Linked DNA regions of Homo sapiens: region 1 is linked to region 2. Evidence: fine-mapped expression QTL. Tissue or cell type: whole blood. Region 2 holds a variant in brackets; the other region holds the start of a gene. All regions are shown on one strand. Distances are from middle to middle.

Region 1 (8,183 bases), 27 kb before region 2:
CCTGGTTTGGGAACTTCGTACTATTTCCATTTAGAGAGAACCCCAGCAAGCTGACACTGTTTGCTTCTTTATACATCAACTTGGTCATCAGTCCCTTTTCCTCCCTCCAACTCTCAAACTTTCTCTATTCAAAATGAAGGGAAAAGCGAAAATCCTTAAGTCTCAGATTGTTGTTTCGTTTTGTTCTCCTAACTATAAAAGAAAACCACTGGTCTTAGTGTGTGTCTGACTTACCACCCAATTTATAAATGCTCCTCCTTGCTGTGGTCAAGGTGATCATTAACTAATTAGTAGGTGAGGAGTTTAATTTTTTGTTCCGTGCAGCCATACATCAAGAAAGAAGAGAATGGTGCAGTCTCCTTAGGCAGTAGGGAGGCTGTGTGGTAGGTTTCCTTCCTGCCAGTTAAAGGACAAGTAAAGTGGACTAAGGTCGCATTCCCCCACAGAACCACTGCCCCAGACGCTGGCTGGTTCCTGGCCTTATCTCAAGTAGGATGGCAGCAGTGGGAAAGGTTGAGACATTGCTTCCTGCTTCAGAATGCTTTGGAAACCTGCTTCAGATTTTAGGAATGATTTATACACTTTTTGGAAAGCAAATAATGATGTAAGTTAAATGATACACTTTTCCCTTGAAAATTTATACATTTTTTGAAAAGATCTTAGGAATGAGAGTTTCCCCAAACAACTCCCTTCATAGGAGTTCCTGAGGCACTGAACCATTTTATCAGTAGACCCTGCCCCCCTGTATACCTAAATCGGCCACAGTTTGCTGGGCTGCAGTTCCCCAGCCAGCCAGAAATGGAAGGGTTTTTAATCTGTGGCTGGTGGTCTTACATCAAAAGAAGAAAACAGTCAAATTCTCCCCACTTCCTCTTATCTTTTTTGTAGTTCATATCCAACCAAGGCTTTTTTCCCCCCAAAATGCATTTGCTGACAATTTATTAAGCCCAGGAAATTCTGGGTTTCATTTTGGTCCTCTTGCAGAGAGGAAAATGGGTGGTTCCCCTCAAAGCTTCCCCAGGATTGTTCCTCCTAGTTGCTATCTCTGGTTTACTACTGACCCCAAACCCAAGCCACTGAGCCTATTTGTCTTAAGGAAAAGATGGAGGAGCAGTGATACCACACTCGGGGTCTGGGTTGGGCACTGTGGAGGTGCTGGTGGAAGACCATGCCTGAGAAGGAGTGGCGAGGGCCCAGAAGGTCTGTGTTGAGCTGCAGGTGCACCTGAGGCAGCACAGTGGGTCTCCTCTGCTGACAACTCTTTCTGCCCTTTCCCCTCCAGTGTTGGGGCTCTCTCCAGGGTAATGTCCTCCTCTTCTTTCCTTCTCACTCTACATGGTTCACTCAGCCCAGGCAAGCTCAGCCATCCATAATTCCCCATAGGGCACTATTTGGGACAGGACAACTCTTTGTTGTGCAAGATAGCACTATGAACTGAATAAAGTCCGCAGTAGTGCTCCTCAGTCATCGTGACAACCAAGCCTCCCTGACACATTTCCAAATGTCTCCTGGGTGGCGGGGCAGTGCAGTACTGCTCAGTAGAGGAGCAAAGGACTCCTGAGTTTACATTTCCACCCCTGATAGTATCCCTGCACTCCAGACCCCTGCACCCAAGGAAATTTCTCAAAGGCACCTTGTGTCCTGTCCCAGAGACATCTTTTTTTTTTTTTTTTTTTTGACATAGTTTTGCTGTCATTCAGGCTGGAGTGCAGTGGTACGATCTCAGTTCATTGCAATCTCTGACTCCCAGACTCAAGCGATTCTCAGCTTCCCAAGTAGCTGGGATTACAGGCATGTGGCACCACACCCAGCTAATTTTTGTATTTATAGTAGAGACAGTTTCACCGTGTTGGCCAGGTTGGTCTCAAACTCCAGACCTCAAGCGATCTGCCTACCTTGGCCTTTCAAAGTGCTGGGATTACAGGCATCAGCCACCACACCTGGCCTCCAGAGACATCTTAAACTCAACTTTTCAAACCTGATCTCATCATTTTAATCTACTCTGACTAGTAAATGACGCTACCACTTCCCATTCTCAAACTGAGCCTAGGTGTTTTCCTAAATCCTCCTCTGAACTCTTTTACCCAGCTAGTGTTCCAGCACACAACCAAAGGTGAAATTCTCTAGCCCATCATATTTTCTAGATACTTCAGGTTACAGCCACCCCAACCTAGCCCCTAATCCAGTCAGAGAGTGGGTTCTAATGCAAAGCTGATGAGATCAAGGTTAGTTCGCTGCTGCTCTAATCTTCAAAGCTTTGTCTACGGAACCATAGTAGAGGTAGTCTGCCTGAGCAGTGGAAGACCATGAGTTTGAGGTAAGATGAAGGAGAACTTAACTGTGTTTCTGCACCTTAGGTGCATGACTTTTAAGCAGGCTCTGAGCAGATAGAGGGCCAAGGGCCCCTCCCTGTGGCGTCTTTTCTCTCTGAGGCCTCCATCAAAGCCCTCGGGCTCTGTCATAATTGTTGACTTTATCTGTCTGCCTCCCTCAGTAAACTTGGGAGCAGGGGCTGTGTCCTCCTTTCTGGGCCCTCAGCCCAGTGCCTGGCACATGGCAGGCACCCTTTCATGAGTGAATGTTTGTGGAATGAAGTACTGAGTTGGAAATCACTCTGCAAGCTGGGTAGAGCTGGACCACTTTCCCTTACTCATAATACCATCTGGCATTTGCAACAGTAAACACTAACAGCCTCACTTTAATTCAGGACCTTGGGTGGAGGCTCCAAAGAGTGGAATGAGCACTAGAATGGGGAGTCTGAACATCTGAGTCCTTGTCGTGGCTCTGTTAACTAACAAAACCTATCACCTTGGGTATGGTACTTTCTTCAACTGAGGAGATGGAGAGTCAGCTGGGACAAGGGTTCTATAGAGGGGCTTAGAGCGGCTTAAAGGGAGTCCTTGAGCAGTCTGAAATTGTTGCCAAACTCAGTCTATTTGCATTCTGTGGAGGGGACACCACAGATTCTTAAATAGTCAAGAACTGCTAACCTGGATAAGCTTCTGAATTACTGCAGTTTACATACTGACGCATGTACTTTGAGGGAAAAGAGGTACAGGGGAGCAGCAGAGATGGCTGGCACTCATCCCACATACCCACTGCCATCCCAGGCCCATCTGAGAGGGACTTTGTCAAGGGAGGCTTGGCATGACTAGGCTGCTGACTCAGCCACTTCCTAAACTTTGGTGCCACAAGCCAGGGAGCAAAAGGCAGGGTCTAAGGCAGAGGACACACATACAGAATGCTCCTAAAGGGACAGAGGCACGGGATTGGAAAGAAAAACTGCTGGAAAGTGAACCAGACAGGGTCTTAGGGAGAGAAGGATCCTTACAGACAAGGGAGCTATCAAGATCCACAAGTCTGGCACAGGCAAGGGGAACAGCAGGGGTTCTGGAGATGGAGGCCTAGACTGGAAGGAAAGGAGAAGGAGCTGGCACTTCCTGAGCACGTACTAAGTGCTGAGTACTCTTGTGATCATCATAATCCTGCAAGGGAGGTTTATCAGTCCCAAGCAAGGGAGTTAAATACAAGTTCTGCTGTTTCTAAGTGTCCTCTGGCCCCCCTTTCTCTGCTCTGCACGGTCTGCCCCGATAATTCAGACAGCCTTAGCATTTCCTTTGGAAAGGTCAATGACAAGAGGCTGGACTATGAATCTGCAGCTGGCAAAGGAGAGAGAAAGCTTCATTCAAACAGTTTGCAACCGTCCTGGGCACCGGCCACGTGCCAGCCACGGGGCTAGGTTCCGGGAGGCACACGACTAGATCCCTGCCCTTCGCAACAGCCACTACCTGCTGCCCCCACACCCCGAGGGGAACCAGCTGGGATCTGGGCAGCCAGGGCGCTTAAGGTGCGGGGCCGGCGCCAGGCTGGAAGTGGGAAGCCAGGACTATGGCTGGGCTCAGAGGAGAGTGAGGCAGGATCGGTATGCTTCCCACCCTCCTTCCCAGCTTACCAGGCGCAAGTCCCCCGGTCCGTGCACCACCAGGGAAAGGTTGTTGGGCTTGGCCGCCGCCGCCATGGAGCTCTTTTGGCTCTGGAGTGCGGCCTGGAAGGCGCGGGACGTTTGGTCGCTCTGGTGGCGCTACCCAGCCGAGGGTCCAGGGCACTGGATGGAAGGTGGGGCCTGGGAGAAGCGCCGCACGCAGGGGCGGGACTAGGCTTCCTCCTTTGTGCCAGCCTGGGCGGCGCTAGCGTGGAGGGGCGGGGCTTCCCAGCCTCCTCCAGACCCGGAGGCGGGGCGGGGCTTCGGGAGGGGGCTGGGAGCGAGAAGCCCGGGTGCTGGCTCCATCTGCAGCGCGCTGTTTTTTTTGTTTGTTTGTTTGTTTGTCGCCGAGGCTGGAGTACAGTGGTGCGATCCCGGCTCACTGCAAGCTCTGCCTCCCGGGTTCAAGCCATTCTCCTGCCTCAGCCTCCCGAATAGCTGGGACTACAGGCGCCCACCACCACGTATTTTTGTTTAGTAGAGACGGGGTTTCACCGTGTTAGCCAGGATGGTCTCGATATCCTGACCTCGTGATCCACCCGCCTCCGCCTCCCAAAGTGCTGGGATTACAGGCGTGAGCCACCGCGCCGGCCCTGCAGCGCGCTGTTTTTGCCGCCTCACATGCAAGCACACACGGCTGCCTTGAAAACCGCCTGCAGAGGCAGTAGGCACCAGACCAGCGCTCTCAAACGTTAGCTGCAGAAGAATTGGGGTGGGGAATGTGAGGCGCTGTTGAGAATGCACATTCTCAGGACCAGCACAGAGATTCTGATACAGTAGGTCTAGGTCTGAGGTGCTGCCTGAGGGTCCATATTCCTAGCAACGAGAATGCTGAGGCTGTGGGTGGAGCACGGTGTGCACTTTGCGAGACAGGTGCTACCATGACGCAGCGTCCACGTCGGCCCTTTGTCTCCAGCCCCCAGGAAAGGGCCTGGCACGAGTAGGAGTAAATGAATTCGTGCATCATTACATGGGCCTGGTGCTTAAGTATAAAAAAGACATGAGGCCGGGCGCAGTGGCTCTTGCCTGTAATCCCAGCACTTTGGGAAGCCGAGGCAGGTGGATCACCTGAGGTCAGGAGTTCGAGACCAGCCTGACCAATATGGTGAAAACCCCGTCTCTACTAAAAATACAAAAATTAGCCGGGCATGGTGGCATGCGCCTTAATCTCAGCTACTCGGGAGGCTGAGACAGGAGAATAGCTTGAACCTGGGAAGCAGAGGTTGCAGTGAGCTGAGATCATGCCATTCAACACCAGCCTGGGCAACAAGAGTGAAAATCTGTCTTTAAAAAAAAAAAAGCCATGAAATGGAATTTGTGAACCTCTTTCTCTCAACTGGATCTGCTGCTTCTATTCAAAGCAGAGTTTCTGCCCAAACTCTTCCTTCAAGCCTCTCAGCCCTCTGAGAAACAGTGAGGTTTTACTCTCTGAGGAGAGAGGCGCTTCTAGATAGGCCTAAGTCTATAAGGCCCCTCCCTCCTTTGAGGATAATGCTCAGGATTTCATTCCCTTACAGTCCCCCCTCCCCAATATGTAACCGCCCAATGGATTCACCTTGCCTGCTGCCTAGACAAAACTAATTTATCAAGACAGGGGAACTGCAATAGGGAAAGAGTTCATGCAGAACCAGCTATGCAGGAGACTGGAATTTCATTATTGCTCAAATCCGGCTCCCCAAGCATTCGAGCATACGGGGACTCAGAGTTTTTAAGGATAGTTTGATGGGTGGGGAAAGGCCAGTGAGTCAGGAGTGCTGATTGTTTGGGTCAGAGATGAAATCATAGGGGATCTAAGCTGTCTTCTTGGACTGAGTCAGTTTCTGGGCGAGGGCCACAAGGTCAGATAAGTGAGTTTATCAATCTGGTTGGTGCTACGCCTTGAGGGACCGGTGCCAGTATAGGCTGTATTTGTTCCTTGCTGAGGGCCCTGGTTCCTCTGGCTAAGATTAGGCCTAGATATTTGACTTGTTGTAGGCAGAGCTGGGCTTTCAGTTTAGACACCTTGCCCGCTTGATTACCTAGAAAGTTCAAGAGATCTAGAGTAGCCTGCTGGCATGAGGCTTCCAAATTGGTAGCCAAAAGTAAATCATCCAGATTCCGTTCCAAGATGGCCAAATAGGAACAGCTCCGGTCTGCAGCTCCCAGTGTGATCGATGCAGAAGACGGTGATTTCTGCATTTCCAACTGAGGTACCTGGTTCATCTCATTGGGACTGGTTGGACAGTGGCTGCAGCCCATGGAGGGTGAGCCGAAGCAGGGAGGGGCATTGCCTCACCCGGGAAGCGCAAGCGGTTGGGGGATTTCCCTTTCCTAGCCAAGGAAAGCTGTGACAGACTGTACCTGGAAAATCAGGACACTCTCACCCAAATACTGCACTTTTCCAACGGTCTTAGCAAATGGCACACCAGGAGATTAAATCCTGTGCCTGGCTCAGTGGGTCCCACGCCCACAGAGCCTTGCTCACTACTAGCACAGCAGTCTGAGGCAGCAGCCTGGCAGGGGAGGGGCGTCCGCCATTGCTGAGGCTTGAGTAGGTAAACAAAGCAGCCGGGAAGGTTGAACTGGGCAGAGCCCACCGCAGCTCTGCAAGGTCTGCTGCCTCTGTAGACCTCACCTCTGGGGGCAGGGCATAGGTGAACAAAAGACAGCAGAAACTTCTGCAGACTTAAACGTCCCTGTCTGACAGCTCTGAAGAGAGCAGTGGCTCTCCCAGTACAGTGTTTGAGCTCTGAGAATGGACAGACTGCCTCCTCAAGTGGGTCCCTGGCCCCCATGTAGCCTAACTGGGAGACACTTCCCAGTAGGGGCCAACTGACACCTCATACAGGCGGGTGCCCCTGTGGGACGAAGCTTCCAGAGGAAGGATCAGGCAGCAACATTTGCTCTTCTGCAATATTTGCTGTTCTGCAGCCTCCACTGGTAATACTCAGGTAAACAGGGTTTGGAGTTGACCTCCCGCAAACTCCAACAGATCTGCAGCTGAGGGACCTGACTCTTAGAAGGAAAACTAGCAAATAGGAATAGCATCAACATCAACAAAAAGGACATCCACACCAAAACCCCATCTGTAGGTCACCAGCATCAAAGGTAGATAAAACCACGAAGATGGGGAGAAACCAGAGCAGAAAAACGGAAAATTCTAAAATCCAGAGTGCCTCTTCTCCTCCAAAAGATCACAGCTCCTCATCAGCAACGGACCAAAGGTGGACGGAGAATGACTTTGATGAGCTGAGAGAAGTAGGCTTCAGAAGGTTGGTAATAACATACTTCTCCCAGCTAAAGGAGGATGTTCAAACCCATCGCAAAGAAGCTAAAAACCTTGAAAAAAGATTAGACGAATGGCTAACTGGAATAAATAGTGTAGAGAAGACCTTAAATGACCTGATGGAGCTGAAAACCATGGCACAAGAACTATGTGATGCATGCACAAGCTTCAACAGCCAATTCATTCAAATGGAAGAAAGGATATCAGTGATTGAAGATCAAATTAATGAAATAAAGTGAGAGGAGAAGTTTAGAGAAAAAAGAGTAAAAAGAAATGAACAAAGCCTCCGAGAAATATGGGACTATGTGAAAAGACCAAATCTACATTTGATTGGTGTACCTGAAAGTGACAGGGAGAATGGAAACAAGTTGGAAAACACTCTTCAGGATATTATCCAGGAGAACTTCCACAACCTAGCAAGACAGGCCAACATTCAAATTAAGGAAATACAGAGAACACCACAAAGATACTCCTCAAGAAGAGCAACCCCGAGACACACAATTGCCAGATTCACCAAGGTTGAAATGAAGGAAAAAATGTTAAGCGCAGCCAGAGAGAAAGGTCGGATTACCCACAAAGGGAAGCCCCTCAGACTAGCACTGGATCTCTCAGCAGAAACTCTACAAGCCAGAAGAGAGTGGGGGCCAATATTCAACATTCTTCAAGAAAAGAATTTTCAACCCAGAATTTCATATTCAGCCAAACTAAGCATCATAAGTGAAGGAGAAATAAAATACTTTACAGACAAGCAAATGCTGAGAGGTTTTGTCACCACCAGGCCTCCCTTACAAGAGCTCCTGAAGGAAACACTAAACATGGAAAGCAACAACCAGTACCAGCCACTGCAAAAACATGCCAAATTTTAAAGACCATCAATGCTAGGAAGAAAATGCATTAAATAATGGGCAAAATAACCAGCTAACATCAAAATGACAG
Region 2 (8,186 bases):
AGTTCCCAATAAGTTCCTTATTTCCATCTGAGACTTTGTCAGCATGGCCTTTACTGTCTATATGTCTATAAACATTTTGGTCACAACTATTTAACCAATATGTAAGAAGTTCCTAACTTTTCCTAGTCTTTTTTCTCCTTCTGAGCCCTCCAAACTCTTCCAACCTCTGCCCATTAACTAGTCCAAAGCCATTTCCACATTTTCAAGTATCTTTATAGCAACACCCACTCCTCAGTATTAATTTTCTGTCTTCATCTGTTTTGTGTTGCTATAAAGGAATACCTGAGGCTGAGTAATTTATAAAGAAGAGGTTTATGTGGCTCACAGTTCTGCAGGCTGTGTGATAAGCATGGCACCAGCATCTGCTTCTGGTGAGGGCTTCAGGCTGTTTCTACTCATCGTGAAGGTAAAGAGGAGCCAAGGTGTGCAGAGAGTACATGGTGAGAGAGGAAGCAAGAGAGAGTAGAGGGGTGCCAGGCTCTTTTTAACAAACAGCTTTGGTGGGAACTAACAGAGCAACAATTCACTCACTCACTCTCACTTCCCCAACCCCAGAGGGAGGGCATTAATCTATTCATGTGTCGTCTATGCCCATGGCACAAACACCTCCCATTAGGCCCTACCTTCAACATGGGAATCAAATTTCAACATGAGGTGTTGGGGGACAAACATCTAAATTATAGCAGATGCCTATAGCAGACATCCAGGTGAAATGACCAAACAATATAGGGCACGTGCTATGTAGGAGACTGGGAAAGTCTAGGCTTGAAGGTCTAGATGAAATTTGGAAGTCATTGGTATATAGACTATTGAGAGCAGTAAGTGAGAAGAAGATAATCTAGAGACTGAACACACAATTTGAAAAAGGACATAGCTCAGGTCCAAGCTCTGAGCATCAAACATCAAGGAACTAGGAAAAATGAAGAGGAAACAGCAAAGGATCCTGAGAATAAGTGAAGGCACAAAAAGCATTGTTTTAAGAAAAAAGTGTTCAAGTGTTTAATACTGATAAGAAGTCAAGATGGAAACCAAAGAATATCTAGTGGATTCAGCAACAAGGAGGTAATTGGTAATCATGCAAACGGAGTTTTGGTGGAAAGATGGGAGTGGGAGCCATATTGGGACGGGATCATTCATCCATTTATTCAGCAACTATGTAATAAGTGTCTGTGACATGCTGGTACACGGTGCTGGGGATACAATGAATCTGACAGACACAATCCCCACTTAGGGGAGGAGAAGCCATTAAGCAGATAATCATAGAAGTAATGACTCAAACACAATTATGGTAAGGGCTATGAAGGAAAAGAAAAGAAAACCATGAAAGTGTGTAGCAGAGGAACCTAGTCTAGCTTGAAAGCAAGGGAAGTTTGCCCTGAGGGAGTGATAGATAAAGCTGTACTTGAGAGACTTGAGTTGTGACAGCAGTGAGGCTAGGGAGGGAGATTGTGTGTTCCAGGCAGAAGGAACCACAAACGTGGAGTCCAAGAGGGCGAGACCATCATGAAAAGTCAGCAGTGTGGCAGAATCACAGTGAACAAGGAGAGAGTGGCACAAAACAACAAAAACAACAACAGCAACTAGAGCCTAGCAAGTGACCCAACCCAGGGGTTCACATAGATCCTCCAGTGTTTTACACTGTAGGAAATGCCAGGGTGCAAGAAGAAAGGTAGTGAGAAGGCCTATGGCTGAAGACCTTAAGGCAAAAGCTAGAAAATTATACTTCTCTAGGGTGAGGAGTTCACTCTGATGTACAAAGTCTATTTTTTTCAAGCAAAAAATAATGGAATAGCACTGACTTTTATTCATTCATGTGAAGTCACCTGAAATGATATCTGTTGCATTTAAATGCTCATTAATAATATAAATGACTTAACAAATCCATTTCAATGGATATTCAATATTCCACTTAGATAAGTCACACAGCCTCATGACAACGCATATAACATATATAAACAGACAGGGATAAACACCTCCTCCCCCTCAGTTGATTTATTCAGCATGTTAGAGCAGTGAAGAATGGTTTCAGTCTTATAACCAAGTTAGAGTGAAGACACTGGCCGCATAATACACATGCTCCATTTGTAAAACAATTATCAGTCTTGGGCAACCGTTCTCTTGAAACCTTACAGTTTTTAAAAGCAGTTATTGTCCAAAGCTGGGAGAACTTAAGTCTTCTCAAATGAGCATGTGAATGAATGGAGGGAGGTAAACAGAAAATAAAATTTAAAAAGATGAGGTCTGATATGGGAGCAGCTGGATTAGAAACTAAAAAAGCGGCTAGGCACAGTGGCTCACACCTAGAATCCCAGCACTTTGGGAGGCCAAGGCAGGCAGATCGGTTGAGCTCAGGAGTTCAAGACCAACCTGGGCAACATGGTGAAACCCTGTCTCTACAAAAAAATAAAATAAAAAATAAATACAAAAATACAAAAATTAGTCAGGTGTGGTGGCACATGCCCGTAATCCCAGCTACTTGGGTGGCTGAGGCAGGAGAATCACTCGAACCCAGGAGGTGGAGGCTGCAGTGAGTGGAGAAGGAGAGAGAGAGAGAGAGACAGAGAGAGAGAGGAAGGGAGGAAGGTAAAAAGGAATAGTAATTTAAAGTTTATTTCAGCTATAATGCAGGTTATTCTGACTTCAAGGTAGCATCACATGGCATACTTCTGAGTCAATTCTCGACATATTCTGTTGTGTTTATCTCTGTCTGTTTATATAAAAAGGCACAATGAGACATTTCTAAACATGGCAGGATCTCAAGAAATATTGTTTCCATGAGCTTTCCTTGAATAAACTACTAGAAGATGAACTTCAACCAAGAAATAAATGGGAAAACTATGGCAAAAAGAGAGGTCATCAAGAGCAGGATAGGGAGAAGATGAGAAAATATTCTAATTTCATTGTTTATTCATATCAGGGGATTGATAGATAGTGCCTAAGAGAGGAAGATTAAGTAAATACATTATAAAGACCATCACTGAAATAAAAATATAACCTTTTCAGATTTTCAGAAAAAATAAAACCAAATACATACCATAACATCAGAATTTTTAAAGGATCTATTAAATAATAGAAGACATCATATAAAGTTATATATATTGTATTAATAATTAATACCAAGTATTTCAATTTGATAAATCTAAATGTGCTAAACTAATGTATTAAAATAAAATAAATTTCAGCCAGTCTTGGTGACCCACACCTGTGATCCTAGCACTTTGGGTGGCTTAGGCAGGAGGATCGTTTGAGCCCAGGAGTTCATGACCAGCCTGGGCAACACAGTGAGACCCCATCTCTATTTTTTATTTAAAAAATAATAAAAATTGAAAGTAAAATAAAATAAAGTAAATTTGGATTAAATCATAAAGCAAAATTCAAATCTATGCTGTACACAAGGGATCCAAAACAAAATAAATCAGAAATCTTTACAATTGTAAATTAGAAGAAAGCAATGGTTATAAGTTTTTTTTGCTTCATTTTGTTTCTCTTTCTTCCTTTTTATTTTCTATTACACTTTAAATTCTAGGGTACATGTGCACAATGTGCAGGTTTGTTACACAGGTATACATGTGCCATGTTGGTGTGCTGCACCCAACAACTTGTCATTTACATTAGGTATTTCTCCTAATGCTATCCCTCCCCCAGCCTCCCAAGCCCTGACAGGCCCCGGTGTGTGATGTTCCCTGCCCTGTGTCCATGTGTTCTCATTGTTCAACTCCCACCTATGAGTGAGAACATGAGGTGTTTGGTTTTCTGTCCTTGTGATAGTTTGCTGAGAATGATGGTTTCCAGCTTCATCCATGTCCCTCCAAAGGACATGAACTCACTCTTTTTATGGCTGCATTGTATTCCATGGAATCGCCACACTGTCTTCCACAATGGCTGAACTAATTTACACTCCCACCAACAGTGTAAAAGTGTTCCTGTTTCTCCATATCCTCTCCAGCATCTGTTGTTTCCTGACTTTTAAATGATCACCATTCTAACTGTTGGAGATG[G/A]TATCTCACTGTGGTTTTGATTTGCATTTCTCTGATGACCAGTGATGATGAGCATTTTTTCATGTGTCTGTTGGCTGCATAAATGTCTTCTTTTGAGAAGTGTCTGTTCATATCTTTTGCCCGCTCTTTGATGGGGTTGTTTGTTTTTTTCTTGTACATTTGTTTAAGTTCTTTGTAGATTCTGGATATTAGCCCTTTGTCAGATGGGTAGATTGCAAAAATTTTCTCCCATTCTGTAGGTTGCCTGTTCACTCTGATGACAGTTTCTTTTGCTGTGCAGAAGCTCTTTAGTTTAACTAGACCCCATTTGTCTATTTTGACTTTTGTTAACATTGCTTTTGTTGTTTTAGTCATGAAGTTGTTGCCCATGCCTATGTCCTGAATGGTATTGCCTAGGTTTTCTTCTACAGTTTTTATGGTTTTAGGTCTTACATTTAAGTCTTTAATCCATTTTGAGTTAATTTTTGAATAAGGTGTAAGGAAGGGATCCAGTTTCAGCTTTCTACATTTGGCTAGCGAGTTTTCCCAGCACCATTTATTCATAGGGAATCATTTCCCCATTGCTTGTTTTTGTCAGGTTTCTCAAAGATCAGATGGTTGTAGATGTGTGGTGTTATTTCTAAGGCCACTGTTCTGTTCCATTGGTCTATATATTTGTTTTGGTACCAGTACCATGTTGTTTTGGTTACTGTAGCCTTGTAGTGTAGTTTGAAGTCAGGTAGCATGATGCCTCATGCTTTGTTCTTTTTGCTTAGGATTATCTTGGCTATGCAGGCCCTTTTTTGGTTCCATATGAACTTTAAAGTAGTTTTTTGCAATTCTGTGAAGAAAGTCATTGGTAGCTTGATGGGGATGGCACTGAATCTATAAATTACCTTGGGCAGTAGGGCCATTTTCACGATATTGATTCTTCCTACCCATGAGCATGGAATGTTCTTCCATTTGTTTGTGTCCTCTTTTATTTCATTGAGCAGTGGTTTATGGTTCTCCTTGAAGAGGTCCTTCACATCCCTTGTAAGTTGGGTTCGTAGGTATTTTATTCTCTTTGTAGCAATCAGGAATGGGAGTTCCCTCATGATTTGGCTCTCTGCTTGTCTGCTATTGGCGTATAGGAATGCTTGTGATTTTTGCACATTGATTTTGTATCCTGAGACTTTGCTGAAGTTGCTTATCAGCTTAAGGAGTTTTTGGGCTGAGACAATGGAGTTTTTTTAAATATACAATCATGTCGTCTGCAAACAGGGACAATTTGACTTCCTCTTTTCCTAATTGAATACCCTTTATTTCTTTCTCTTGCCTGATTGCCCTGGCCAGAACTTCCAACACTATGTTGAATAGGAGTGGTGAGAGAGGGCATCCTTGTCTTGTGCTGGTTTTCAAAGGGAATGCTTCCATTTGTTGCCTATTTAGTATGATATTGGCTGTGGGTTTGTCATAACTAGCTCTTATTATTTTGAGGTACATTCCATCAATACCTAGTTTATTGAGAGTTTTTAGCATGAAGTGCTGTTGAATTTTGTCAAAAGCCTTTTCTGCATCTATTGAGATAATCATGTGGTTTTTATCATTGGTTCTGTTTATGTGATGGATTATATTTATTGATTTGCATATGTTGAACCAGCCTTGCATCCCAGGGATGAAGCTTACTTGATCGTGGTGGATAAGCTTTTTGATGTGCTGCTGGATTCAGTTTGCCAGTATTTTATTGAGGATTTTTGCATCGATGTTCATCAGGTGTATTGGTCTAAATTTCTCTTTTTTAGTTGTGTCTCTGCCAGGCTTTGGTATCAGGATGATGCTGGCCTCATAAAATGAGTTAGGGAGGATTTCCTCTTTTTGTATTGTTTGGATTAGTTTCAGAAGGAATGGTACCAGCTCCTCTTTGTACCTCTGGTAGAATTTGGCTGTGAATCCGTCTGGTCCTGGACGATTTTTTGGTTGGTAGGCTATTAATTATTGCCTCAATTTCAGAACCAGTTATTGGTCTATTCAGAGATTCAATTTCTTCCTGGTTTAGTCTTGGGAAGGTGTATGTGTCCAGGAACTTATTCATTTCTTCTAGATTTTCTAGTTTATTTGCATAGAGGTGTTTATAGTATTCTCTGATGGTACTTTGTATTTCTATGGGATTTTAAACTAAAGAGCTTCTGCACAGCAAAAGACACTGTCATCAGAGTGAATAGGCAACCTACAGAATGGGAGAAAATTTTTGCAATCTACCCATCTGACAAAGGGCTAATATCCAGGGTCTACAAAGAACTTACACAAATGTACAAGAAAAAAAACAAACAACCCCATCAAAAAGTGGGCAAAGGATATGAACAGACACTTCTCAAAAGAAGACATTTATGCAGCCAACAGACACATGAAAAAATGCTCATCATCACTGGTCATCAGAGGAATGCAAATCATTTTTTATTGTGGCTATTTGATCCTTCTCTCATTTCTTATTAGTCTTGCTAGTGGTCTATCTATTTTGTTGATCTTTTCAAAAAACCAGCTCCTGGATTCATTGATTTTTTTGAAGGGTTTTTGTGTCTCTATCTCCTTCAGTTCTGCTCTGATCTTAGTTATTTCTTGCCTTCTGTTAGCTTTTGAATATGTTTACTCTTGCTTCTCTAGTTCTTTCCATTGTGATGATAGGGTATTGAATTTAGATCTTTCCTGCTTTCTGTTGTGGGCATTTCATGCTATAAATTTCCCTCACACACTGCTTTAAATGTATCCCAGAGATTCTGGTACATTGTGTCTTTGCTCTTATTGGTTTCAAAGAACATCTTTATTTCTACCTTCATTTCGTTATTTACCCAGTAATTCAGGAGCAGGTTGTTCAGTTTCCATGTAGTTTTCCAGTTTTGAGTGAGTTTCTTAATCCTGAGTTCTAATTTGTTTGCACTGTGGTCTGAGAGACAGTTTGTTGTGATTTCTGTTCTTTTACATTTGCTGAGGAGGGCTTTACTTCTAATTATGTGGTCAATTGTGGAATAAGTGTGATGTGATGGTGAGAAGAATGTATATTCTGTTGATTTGGGGTGGAGAGTTCTGTAGATGTCTATTAGGTCCGCTTGGTGCAGAGCTGAGTTCAAGTCCTGGATATCCTTGTTAGCCTTCTGTCTCGTTGATCTGTCTAACATTGACAGTGGGGTGTTAATGTCTCCCATTATTGTGTGGGAGTCTAAGTCTATTTGTAGGTCTCTAAGGACTTGCTTTATGAATCTGGGTGCTCCTGTATTGGGTGCATATATATTTAGGATAGTTAGCTCTTCTTTTTGAATTGATCCCTTTACCATTATGTAATGGCCTTCTTTGTCTCTTTTGATCTTTGTTGATTTAAAGTCTGTTTTATCAGAGACTAGGATTGCAACCCCTGCTTTTTTTTTTTTTTTTTTTTTTTGCTTTCCATTTACTTGGTAGATCTTCCTCCATCCCTTTATTTTGAGCTGATGTGCATTTCTGCATGTGAGATGGGTCTCCTGAATACAGCACACTGATGAGTCTTGACTCTTTATCCAATTTGTCAGTCTGTGTCTTTTAATTGGGTCATTTAGGCCATTTACATTTAAGGTTAATATTGTTATGTGTGAATTTGATCCTGTCATTATGATGTTAGCTGGTTATTTTGCCTGTTAATTGATGCAGTTTCTTCCTAGCATTGATGGTCTTTAAAATTTGGCATGTTTTTGCAGTGGCTGGTACTGGTTGTTGCTTTCCATGTTTACTATTTCCTTCAGGAGCTCTTATAAAGGGAGGCCTGGTGGTGACAAAACCTCTCAGCATTTATTTGTCTGTAAAGGATTTTATTTCTCCTTCACTTATGAAGCTTAGTTTGGCTGAATATGAAATTCTGGGTTGAAAATTCTTTTCTCGAAGAATGTTGAATATCGGCCCCCACTCTCTTCTGGCTTGTAGAGTTTCTGCCGAGAGATCTGCTGTTAGTCTGATGGGCTTCCCTTTGTGGGTAACCTGATCTTTCTCTCTGGCTGCCCTTAACATTTTTTCCTTCATTTCAACCTTGGTAAGTCTGACAATTGTGTGTCTTGGTGTTGCTCTCCTCAAGGAGTATCTTTGTGGCGTTCTCTGTATTTCCTTAATTTGAATGTTGGCCTACCTTGCTAGGTTGTGGAAGTTCTCCTGGATAATATTCTGAAGAGTATTTTCCAACTTGTTTCCATTCTCCCTATCACTTTC

The links. PIP is the estimated chance that this variant, and not a neighbour inherited with it, causes the effect.
Region 1: SORD starts here. The variant in region 2 is fine-mapped to the expression of SORD in whole blood (INTERVAL, PIP 0.99).

Annotation. Positions count from the first base shown.
Region 1 is chr15:45,019,119-45,027,301 of GRCh38, reverse strand. SORD (sorbitol dehydrogenase) reads right to left here and starts at 4,107. Exons shown (of 9, transcript NM_003104.6): 1 at 3,953-4,107. The coding sequence starts at 4,018. RefSeq lists silencers at 1,306-1,594, 4,158-4,327 and an enhancer at 2,738-3,388.
Region 2 is chr15:44,991,644-44,999,829 of GRCh38, reverse strand. No RefSeq gene overlaps it. Among named protein-coding and RNA genes, the nearest start is that of SORD, 27 kb to the left of the region's middle. The variant G/A (reference allele first, on the strand shown) is at 3,999.